Linked DNA regions of Homo sapiens: region 1 is linked to region 2. Evidence: fine-mapped expression QTL. A gene starts in region 2. The other region holds a variant in brackets. All regions are shown on one strand. Distances are between the middles of the regions. Region 1 overlaps FLI1 (Fli-1 proto-oncogene, ETS transcription factor). Region 2 holds the start of FLI1 (Fli-1 proto-oncogene, ETS transcription factor).

Region 1 (4,386 bases), 42 kb after region 2:
GGGCCAGAGTAGATAAAAATAATGGAAACATGCAAAGTGAGTCACAGACAGCAAATCCAACCATTGCCTAGAATTTGTTGGGTGTCACAGGTCAAGCTACAAAGATCACATTCGCCATTTGGACTCAGTTGGCAGGAATGTTATGCATGTGTGATATAAGATGCTGTGCGCTGAAAGTCCCTGAAGCTGTGCAAATACTGGATCCAGCAGAAGTTTTCTCTGTTGTGCCCATCTGCCTTTGTCTAATTAGCCAAGGGTCACTTTGGCTGCCTCCCTTCCTTTCACATGGAGCAAAGGTACCCAGAGAGGCACATGTTGATGCATTCATATGCAAAGAAGTTCTTGTCTTTCTCTCTCTCAAGTCATTGTTCAGTGAGGAGTCAGCTCCCACATGCTCCTCCTATCTGGGCTGCAATCAGCACAGTGAGGAGAGGAGCGACAGAGCACATGATTATGACCGGGGCTTGCTGCTGAGCTGCAGGGGTTCAGAGTACTGCTACCTGTGCAATGGCAGCTTCCCCAGAGCGCCCAGGGGCTCCGAGGCCACAGACAGAAAATATCTTTGCTACCACGTGCTGAAAAATATCCCCAAAACCATTTGCCAAAGATTTGACTTGGTTAAAAGCGAGGTGGAGAGGGGTGGTTAAACAGGGGAAGCTATAGAAAGGAAAATGCGAGAAAAAGATGTTTTGCATATTAAACAGCCCTGCTTTGTCCTCCAATTCAGCCAAAACGTTTGGAGGAGGCTGCGCTGTCCACGTCCACAGTGCTCTGAACGTGCCTCATCTGATCTTGGAAGCTAAGCAGGATCGAGCTGAGTACTCAGATGGAAGAAGGCTATTCTCGTGCGTGTGCAGAGACCAAGATCATAGGGAAAAGCATGTCTAAGGTTGGGTTTTGTGTACAAATATTGTATAGGAACATAATTCAACCTGTTTAAAACAGGAGGATGATTGTGGCTGAAACCACGGTGGGAGGAAGGAACATGTTACATTTCTTCAAAGATAACTGCAGATCGAATGCCTTCATCCTTGTGACCCGCGCTGCCTGCACTGTGGTGTGTTTTGCTTGGTTTGCACCAATGCCCTGGCTGGCGGTCACTTGCTCTTGGTGGCCAGTTTCATTTCCTGGTTTTGAGAAAATGTCAGGGAGGCCTGTTGCTTGGGCATACTGTCACTGAGGGAAGTGTGCAGTTTTAAAATGTCAAAGCCAGCAGGCTCATGTCCAGTGCATGCCATCAATCAGCAAATGTCCCTGGACCCCTAATGAGCCCACTGAAAGTTCAAACGGTAAATAACGAACAGATAAAGATCTTGCCCTAAAATCGCCTACCATCTAACCAAAGGGGCAAGATCAAAAGGGAAAGAAAAATAGTATCAATATGGAAAAATAAATGTACTAATTGCTGTAGTGTTTGTGGGCAAAGAATGCAGCTGAGAAAGTGCAGCCTCGTGGAAAGGGCCCCACGGAAGGGAGTCCAGAGGGTTGGCCTCACACTCTTCCCCTTCCCGCTTTATGACCACGAACGTAGTCCTTCAGAACCTTTGTTTCTTCATCAGCAAAGTGGGGGAGGGGAATAATCCTGCCTTCTTCTCCAGTTTATTAGAGTAATTAAATAAGATTATAGATGTGGGAAGGCTCCTATTAAGATCAATGTCTTAAACTATAAAATAATCTACAATTTTCCTTGTCATTATTATTACTGATAACAACAAAATGAGGGGAAATAAGTCTAGAAAATGCATCATCTGCC[T/A]GTTCCATTAAAAAGAGACAGAGGCAGAGATGGAGCTGGACACAAGAATTCAACCAGCCTAGGACTTTGTTCTGGCACCTCAGTGTATATTTAAAGTCCTGTATAATAACATAGAAGTAATCATGGTTATCGCTTATTTGTATTGATGGATTTAAGGTGGGCTTTTTATTTCTAAGGTTTGGATACATCTAAGAAAATAGCATACTTCCTAAGATACCATTTGATTTTAATTTTCAGAGAGCTGATCACCAATTTGGGAGAACTTTGTGACTGTATGTTTGGTATAATTCCTTTAGAGATCAATTTGATGATGGAGAAATAATCCTCACATTATCCACATTATCAGATGTCTAGATAAGATAGGAAAGGTAACTTTATCACAGCTGTGTGACCCATGATGGCCTAGGTAGCTGAGTGAACCAGAAGTCTGAACTTGGAAACTAAGTTGTAAAGTTCTTATGAACTTCCTAGGGCTTCCTGAGCCTCCCCCCACCTTTAGATGCCAAGTCTCTTTGCAAATTCATATCATTCCTGCAAACAGAAAATAGTATTTAGAATAATAAGATGTTTTTCAAATTTTCCTTCAAGGGTCCTATGAGCTGGCCTGATAAATTGTTTAACTTTGAAGGGAATTTTGAACAAATAGGACAAGACAATCGAAACACGTATCTAGAATTAGGACATGGTTGATCCCGAAGTTCTTAAATACTGAAACCTCCTTGTGGTATGCAGAGGCCAAATTGATCATCTTTAGGCAGAGATTCCTTAGACATGATCGATGAGGCTATCCATCTAGCGTAACACTGAGACTTTCTTGTGTAAACCCCTCACACCCACTAAACAGGAAATGCAAGCTACTAGAGCTGAACATTCAACCACCCCCTAAGTCCCCACCCTCCACCCCCGCCCAGCATAAGAACATTATTCTTTGCTTTCCTTTCCGAAGAGCTGTAGGCATTCATTCATATATGCAGAGCAATCAGACATCATTAGACAAAGAACACCTGATAATAATTCTCACATTTTGGAATCTTAAGAAACTTCCAATGAAAGGGGTGATACGAGTTGGTAAGCCACAGCTTTTGGCGGTAGCATGAGCCCTCTGGCTTCTGAAACCCTAGAGGCCACAGATAAGATACACTCTTGTAGCAGGCTTGTCATACTTGAAATTCTAACTGGTAGCTTGATATCCTGAGTTGCTTTCTCACTTGAGCAACTTTGGTTGAGAATGTAGGAACCTGGAAAGATTTCTTGAGACATGCTCATTTTAGACACACCCAGAAACATGCCAGGTACAGATGACAATTTCCACTATAGGTAAAACATCTCAAAACAGAAGCCTAAGCTGACAGTGGACCAATAACTGCATTGTTTATTGGTTTCCCAAGGCAAATGTTCAGCAAATTCTGTATATATAATCAACAGAAAATTTTGTTCAGATTCTAGAAAAGATAGCTGCTGTTTTGTATATGTGTGTACTTTCTGCTATAGTAGTATTTGCATAAGTTAAATATTTTCAGTGCAATTTTTATTAGTTTTCAAAATGCACTTTTGTGGGTATCTGTGTGTATGCAGGTGTGTGGGGAGAACCATGAACAAGACAAAGACCCCTTGTCACTGAGGGCAGAGCCTGACTCAGCATCCCAATACAGCCCCTGGTTTGCATTCTTCCCAAAGGAGGCACATTCTAACAAACAAACAACCATGCCAAGCCTCCGACCACAAACCCAACCAAACATTTTCAAAAAGATGTATATATTTCTGTGAAAGAATATGGATATCTTTCAGTGCTCAAGAGGCAGTATTCTGCAGTAGATCTAACTCAAGTGGATAGGGACTTCGGAAAGCCCTTTTTCAAACTGAGTTTGTTGAATCCAGCTAGCTACATGGAAGGGATGGCAGGGCTCAGTGGGAGCAGGACACAGTAGGGGAGGCCAGGGTGCAAGCTCATCCACTCCCTCATCTGTAAAATGGGTTAGTTCCCTGACCACCTCACCACACTATTGTCAGGCCTCCTTCACTGGGAGCTGAAAAAGACAAACGCTGAAGCAGAAAGGAGGGTTTTTACAAACAAGGCTTGAATGATAGACACATATGGGGCATGCGTCTCCCATCACAGCCCCCACCACACCGGAACACGAGCTCTGTTCAACATGGTCCTCCTCTCTAATGTCTATGAGTTCTAGAACTTGAACAAATCTTTGTCAAGAATGTAGTCCAGCTCTGTCTCCAAACCATGAACTCATCTGTGAACAAGACATTTCTATTTTCCTTTATCTTTAAAAATTTATTTTAAATGAAATAAATGATGCATGAATGTATTCTGTAGAAAATTTAAATAGAGATCGAGGAAAAGCCCTCTTGCCTCAGGGTACCCCATAATCTCACTTCCCATCCTAGAAATGGCCATCCAGGGCTTATTGAGGTACCTAAGATAGCTTATGTGAATGATGTCACTTTTAGCCTTAGGAAATGTTCTTTTGGGCTCAGTTCCAGTTACTTTTGTTGTGAGGTTCTTGTGGAAGGTTCACTTTCTATCTACCTGCAGACAAATGCTCGGAGCTTATGATATATAACATCAAGGGCTTGCTTGGCTGTCAGAAGTAGGATTGCTTAATCAAAACCTGTGTGGA
Region 2 (4,386 bases):
TACCCCCCGCCCATCTCCAAAACCATGAAATTGCCGTAGCTTTGGAGAAACAGAAAGTGCGATGGAGTTCCACAGTTAAAAACTAAAGGGCAAGTCTTCAATTTAATCTAGTTCCATATTGAATAATTCCAGTGGGGGAGGCAGCTGGTGCTGAAAGGAATTGGGGGACAGTATAGGAATGTTCGGGTGACTACTGATTAATGTAGTGAAGATGATCTGTCACTTGCCAGACCAACAGGAGTTGGAAAGAGAAACCTAGCCATGGTGTCTGCCACAGAGGGACCCTCTAAAGTGCTAGGAGGAGGGTGGGGGGCAGTCGCCACCTGTGGGATGCCATGAACAGCCTCTGCAACTGGCCAGCACCAGGAAGGGGGGCCTCCTGGTGGTGGAGTTGGAGTCCTTTCTGGCTGAATGAGGAGCAATGTGGCTGGGGTGTGCGGGTTTCTGGTGAGGTCCGGGTGGGAAGCCGTCTCTCCGCATTCTCCTGAAAGCTCTGTTGTAGTTTGAAGGTCGGTAGAGCCTGGGCTGAAAAGGAAACAATTTGGGGTTTGAAAGGATGTAATTCATTCTTCCTTTCCCGTTAACCTCTTTCCTCTCTGGAAAGCACGTGGAAACGCTGAAGGGAGGAGTGAGAGGGCAGGCAGCCTGCCGCGGGGAGGAAAGGGTTAAGCCTGATTTCTTTTAATTGAACTCCAGAACTGGTGGCCCCAGGCAAAGGGGGGGACTGACCCCGCTAGCGGTAACCAGATGTGGCGGTCCCAGGGGAGCCCCGGAGCAGACCCCTGGATTGAGAAGCAGACAGGAGCGGGGGGAGTCAGCCCGGCCCCCATCCCACCATCCACCCCACCCCCACCCCCAACACGCACACCAAGTCTCAATTGCTGGCAGGCTGCACCCGCCACTCCAGGTCTGGTCACGTTCAGACCCGTGTCTGTATTCGAACCCAAAATTGGAGCCGAATTGATGAGACTAATTTCTAGAGAGGGAGGGGGAGGGAGGGAGACGAGTGAGCTCTCGGGCTCAATTGCTCCTGAAGAAATAAAGAATTAATAAGTCACCTTTTTTCGCCTCTGTGGACACCCTTTTGAAATTTTTTCTTCCAATTGACTTGGATCTCCTCTGGATTTTTTTTCCCTCTTTCCCCCGTCGGACTCTTAAATAAAAGTGAGCAAGTCCAAAGCGTGGTCCGGAGAGCGTGGACAAGGTAACCTGTTTTGGATGTCCGGGAGAAGGGAGTCCGGCCGAAAGGGCCCAGCCCCTCGAGGCTGCTCCAACTGGGGCGCGCGGCGGCCCAGGAGGGAGGCGGGGAGGTCTCCGGGTTGGGCCGGGGAACGCCGGCCTCCAGGCTGGGTAGGGAGGACGGTCCAGAGCGCGGGCCTCCGGGTCTCACCCCGGGAAAAGTCTGGGTCTGCTCTGCGCTGTTGCGTGCTGCGCTCCTGGGACCTGCTGACTGTCCTAGAGGGAACGTCCCGCGGTAGTGTCAGTTCCCTGGGGACCAGGAAGGGCGACTCTTGCCTGGGAGTCAGTGCTTGGGCCGTCGGGTCCGGGTAAGCGCTGGGGGTTTGGCTCGAGAAGATGCGGATAGGTGGCCTAGGGCGCCGCGGATCTCCGCCCTCTGCGGGCACCGGGAGCCCAGGGTCGAGGCGCGCCGCCCCGAGGGGCCCCTTCTCCTAACAATGCGCCCGGAATGGAGTCCGCGCCCTGACAGCGCGGGTCAGCCCGAAACCGCCCAGAATCCGCTTCGATGAGTGGGTGAGCCGCTCTGGGAGTCTGCCGCGTCTCGGCAGCGGAGGGCCTGAGTGGAAAAATTCTTATTGGATGCACTTTTTAATGGTTGGTTTGCCTCGGTTTTCGTCCGAGTCTTCCCCGGCAGTAGGCGCTGGGTTACCCGCAGCCCTAGCCAACTCTCCCTCCATACCCCCCCTACCCCACCCCCAAAAAGTTTGTCTCCGGCTGGAAAAAGCATTAATGAACGTATCTGTGGGAAGAAACGGAAAGTGAATGAGTCAGGAGGGCCACCTTCGGCCAACCGCCTCAGGAAAAGCAAAGAAGCCAAAGGTCTTTGGCTTTGGATTTTGGGGGAAGGTGATGGGGGGAGGTTCAGACTTCGGGAATCAGGGCGCGGACGCTGGGCGTGGACCCCGTCATTGTTCCCGGCTAGCTCTTATCTCCCAGGAGCAAGTATCCTGTGTGCGCAGCGCATGAATGTGTCTGGGCATCTCCGCGTATATTTATATAGTGTGTGATGCGAAAAGCAGGACCAGCAGGGGAGGAAGAGGGGGTGTGGGGGGGGAGGGAAGACGAGGGAGAGCAGAGGGGAGAGAAGAGAGAGGAGAGCTCGAGGCGAGAGAGAGAGAGAGAGAGAGAGAGAGAGAGAGAGAGAGAGAGAGAGAGAGATAGGACTTCCTCCCCGATTCGCAAAGTGAAGTCACTTCCCAAAATTAGCTGAAAAAAAAGTTTCATCCGGTTAACTGTCTCTTTCGCTCCGCTACAACAACAAACGTGCACAGGGGAGTGAGGGCAGGGCGCTCGCAGGGGGCACGCAGGGAGGGCCCAGGGCGCCAGGGAGGCCGCGCCGGGCTAATCCGAAGGGGCTGCGAGGTCAGGCTGTAACCGGGTCAATGTGTGGAATATTGGGGGGCTCGGCTGCAGACTTGGCCAAATGGACGGGACTATTAAGGTAAGCGGCGGGGCAACGGACGCGGGCGGCGGGGACCGGCCGGGGAGGCGAAGCGGCGGGCGGGTAGGTGCGGGGCCCGCGTCCCGGAAGACGTGGCCTCTCTCCCTTCCCTCCGCGCCCCGGCTTCGCGCCGGCTCCTCCGGCGCTCGGGTGGCGAGTCCTACTCGCGGGCCAGCCGGCCAGGCGCCCGCATTGAGGGCGACCCTCCCCCGAAATCCCAGCCCCCAAAGTGGAGCCCCGGCCCCCCTCCCACCTCGCTGCCCGCCGGGGCTGCAGGAGGGGACGGCGGGAAACCGGGGGACCCCAGGGTACGGAACGGAGTCAAGGGCGAGAGACCTCGGGGTCCACCACTCCCACCGACACCCGGGGCTCCCGTGGCCCCAGCGCTAGGCACTGGGCTTCCTCTCCGCAGAGGCGGAACACGGCGGGGGCGGGGGCTGCAGTCGCCCGGGCTCGGGTCCCTGCCTGGTGGGCCCTGGGGTGGGTAAGTGGCCTCGTTGCACGAGGGTAGGGGTGCAAGTGAGTGTGTCGGGGGATCTATCTGAGCGGGCTCCTCCAGATGGAAGCCCCTGTTTACATGTCAGCGCTTTCCCTTCCTCTCGGCACTCAGTCGCCCGGCTCTAGGCGCTGGAGAGCCGCCGGCTCCGCGGGACTCCTGGGCCGGCCTCGCCGCCTCTCCGGCGGGGAACCTTCCCCAGCCCCCGTCCGCACAGATCCCTAGCGCCCCGAGCCCCCGCCCTTCGCGCCTAGGCGTGCGCCGGCTCCAGGACCAGGGCTCCTGGAGCTGTCGCCTCCGAAAGGGTCCTGCGTCCTTCGGAGCCGCCTCCGTTGCAGGGGCCGGCTGTGAGCCCGCGCCCCGCGCCCGCCCGGCCATTCCCACCCCAGCCGCCGCCGCCAAGCCTGGGTCTAGGTTGCAAAGTGCAACCCAGGCGGAAAGGTGAGGGTTTGGGTTCGCGTCTCACTTCAGAAAAGTTGACTGCTGTCTCTGAAAGGGTTCGCCAAGTAGGGCCAGGAGCAGAGAGGAGGGACACCCCCTAACGTGACGGGCCTTAGAGGACCTAGGGGAATGAATGGGACCAGGGGTTAGCTTCGAGGCTGCCGCGCAACACCAAGCGGGAGTCTGTCTGGAAAAACTATTAGGCTGGCGAGGTGGGGACTGGCAGAGCCCGCCATTCCCCAGAACCCGAAAGAATCGACTCCCTGCTCAGGGCTCAGCAAGAGAAGGCTAAGATGTTGGGCTCAGAGAATTCAAGAGATTTTTATCTTCTGGGTGGGGTCGTGGTTTTTATTTTCTAAGTTTTTTTTATGAAAGTTTGAAATATGCTGACTTAGGTAAAAGACACCAACCGAAGGAACTTGCAAATCTGGAGATGAGATAACTGACTGTGATGGGTTAAAGGGAGCTATAAGAGCCTATAAGAGCCTGGGTTCCTCAAACCCAAAGTGAGTAGGTGAGAAGTAGGTGAGAGGGGATTCCTGCAAAGACCCGAGAGTGGGGGTCATTGGGCCATTTTATGCCTGTTTCTCTGCTTCCTGTTGATGTGTTCATGCAAGTGTCTCTGTATTTCTGGGTTTAGTAATGAGATGCTCCCCTCTAGAAAACTCCCTCGCCCCAATCAGGACAGTTACCACTTACTCTGAAGGCCTCTTCTGATCCAGAAGGGTGGTAAGATGGCCTCAGGGTCTTGATGTGGACACCCTAAGGA

Evidence for each region. PIP is the estimated chance that this variant, and not a neighbour inherited with it, causes the effect.
Region 1: its variant is the best candidate, but not a certain one, in a credible set for the expression of FLI1 in whole blood (INTERVAL, PIP 0.72).

What each region holds. Positions count from the first base shown.
Region 1 is chr11:128,733,521-128,737,906 of GRCh38, forward strand. The region is part of intron 1 of FLI1 (Fli-1 proto-oncogene, ETS transcription factor); the gene reads left to right. Among named protein-coding and RNA genes, the nearest start is that of SENCR, 40 kb to the left of the region's middle. RefSeq lists enhancers at 486-775, 529-1,074. The variant T/A (reference allele first, on the strand shown) is at 1,754.
Region 2 is chr11:128,691,597-128,695,982 of GRCh38, forward strand. FLI1 (Fli-1 proto-oncogene, ETS transcription factor) reads left to right here and starts at 2,476. Exons shown (of 9, transcript NM_002017.5): 1 at 2,476-2,680. The coding sequence starts at 2,663. It overlaps SENCR (smooth muscle and endothelial cell enriched migration/differentiation-associated lncRNA), which reads right to left. Exons shown (of 3, transcript NR_038908.1): 1 at 4,317-4,386; 2 at 1,059-1,795; 3 at 76-525. RefSeq lists silencers at 1,535-1,584, 1,605-1,744, 2,428-2,797, 3,018-3,067, 3,108-3,327 and 1 more and a cis regulatory region at 1,964-2,696.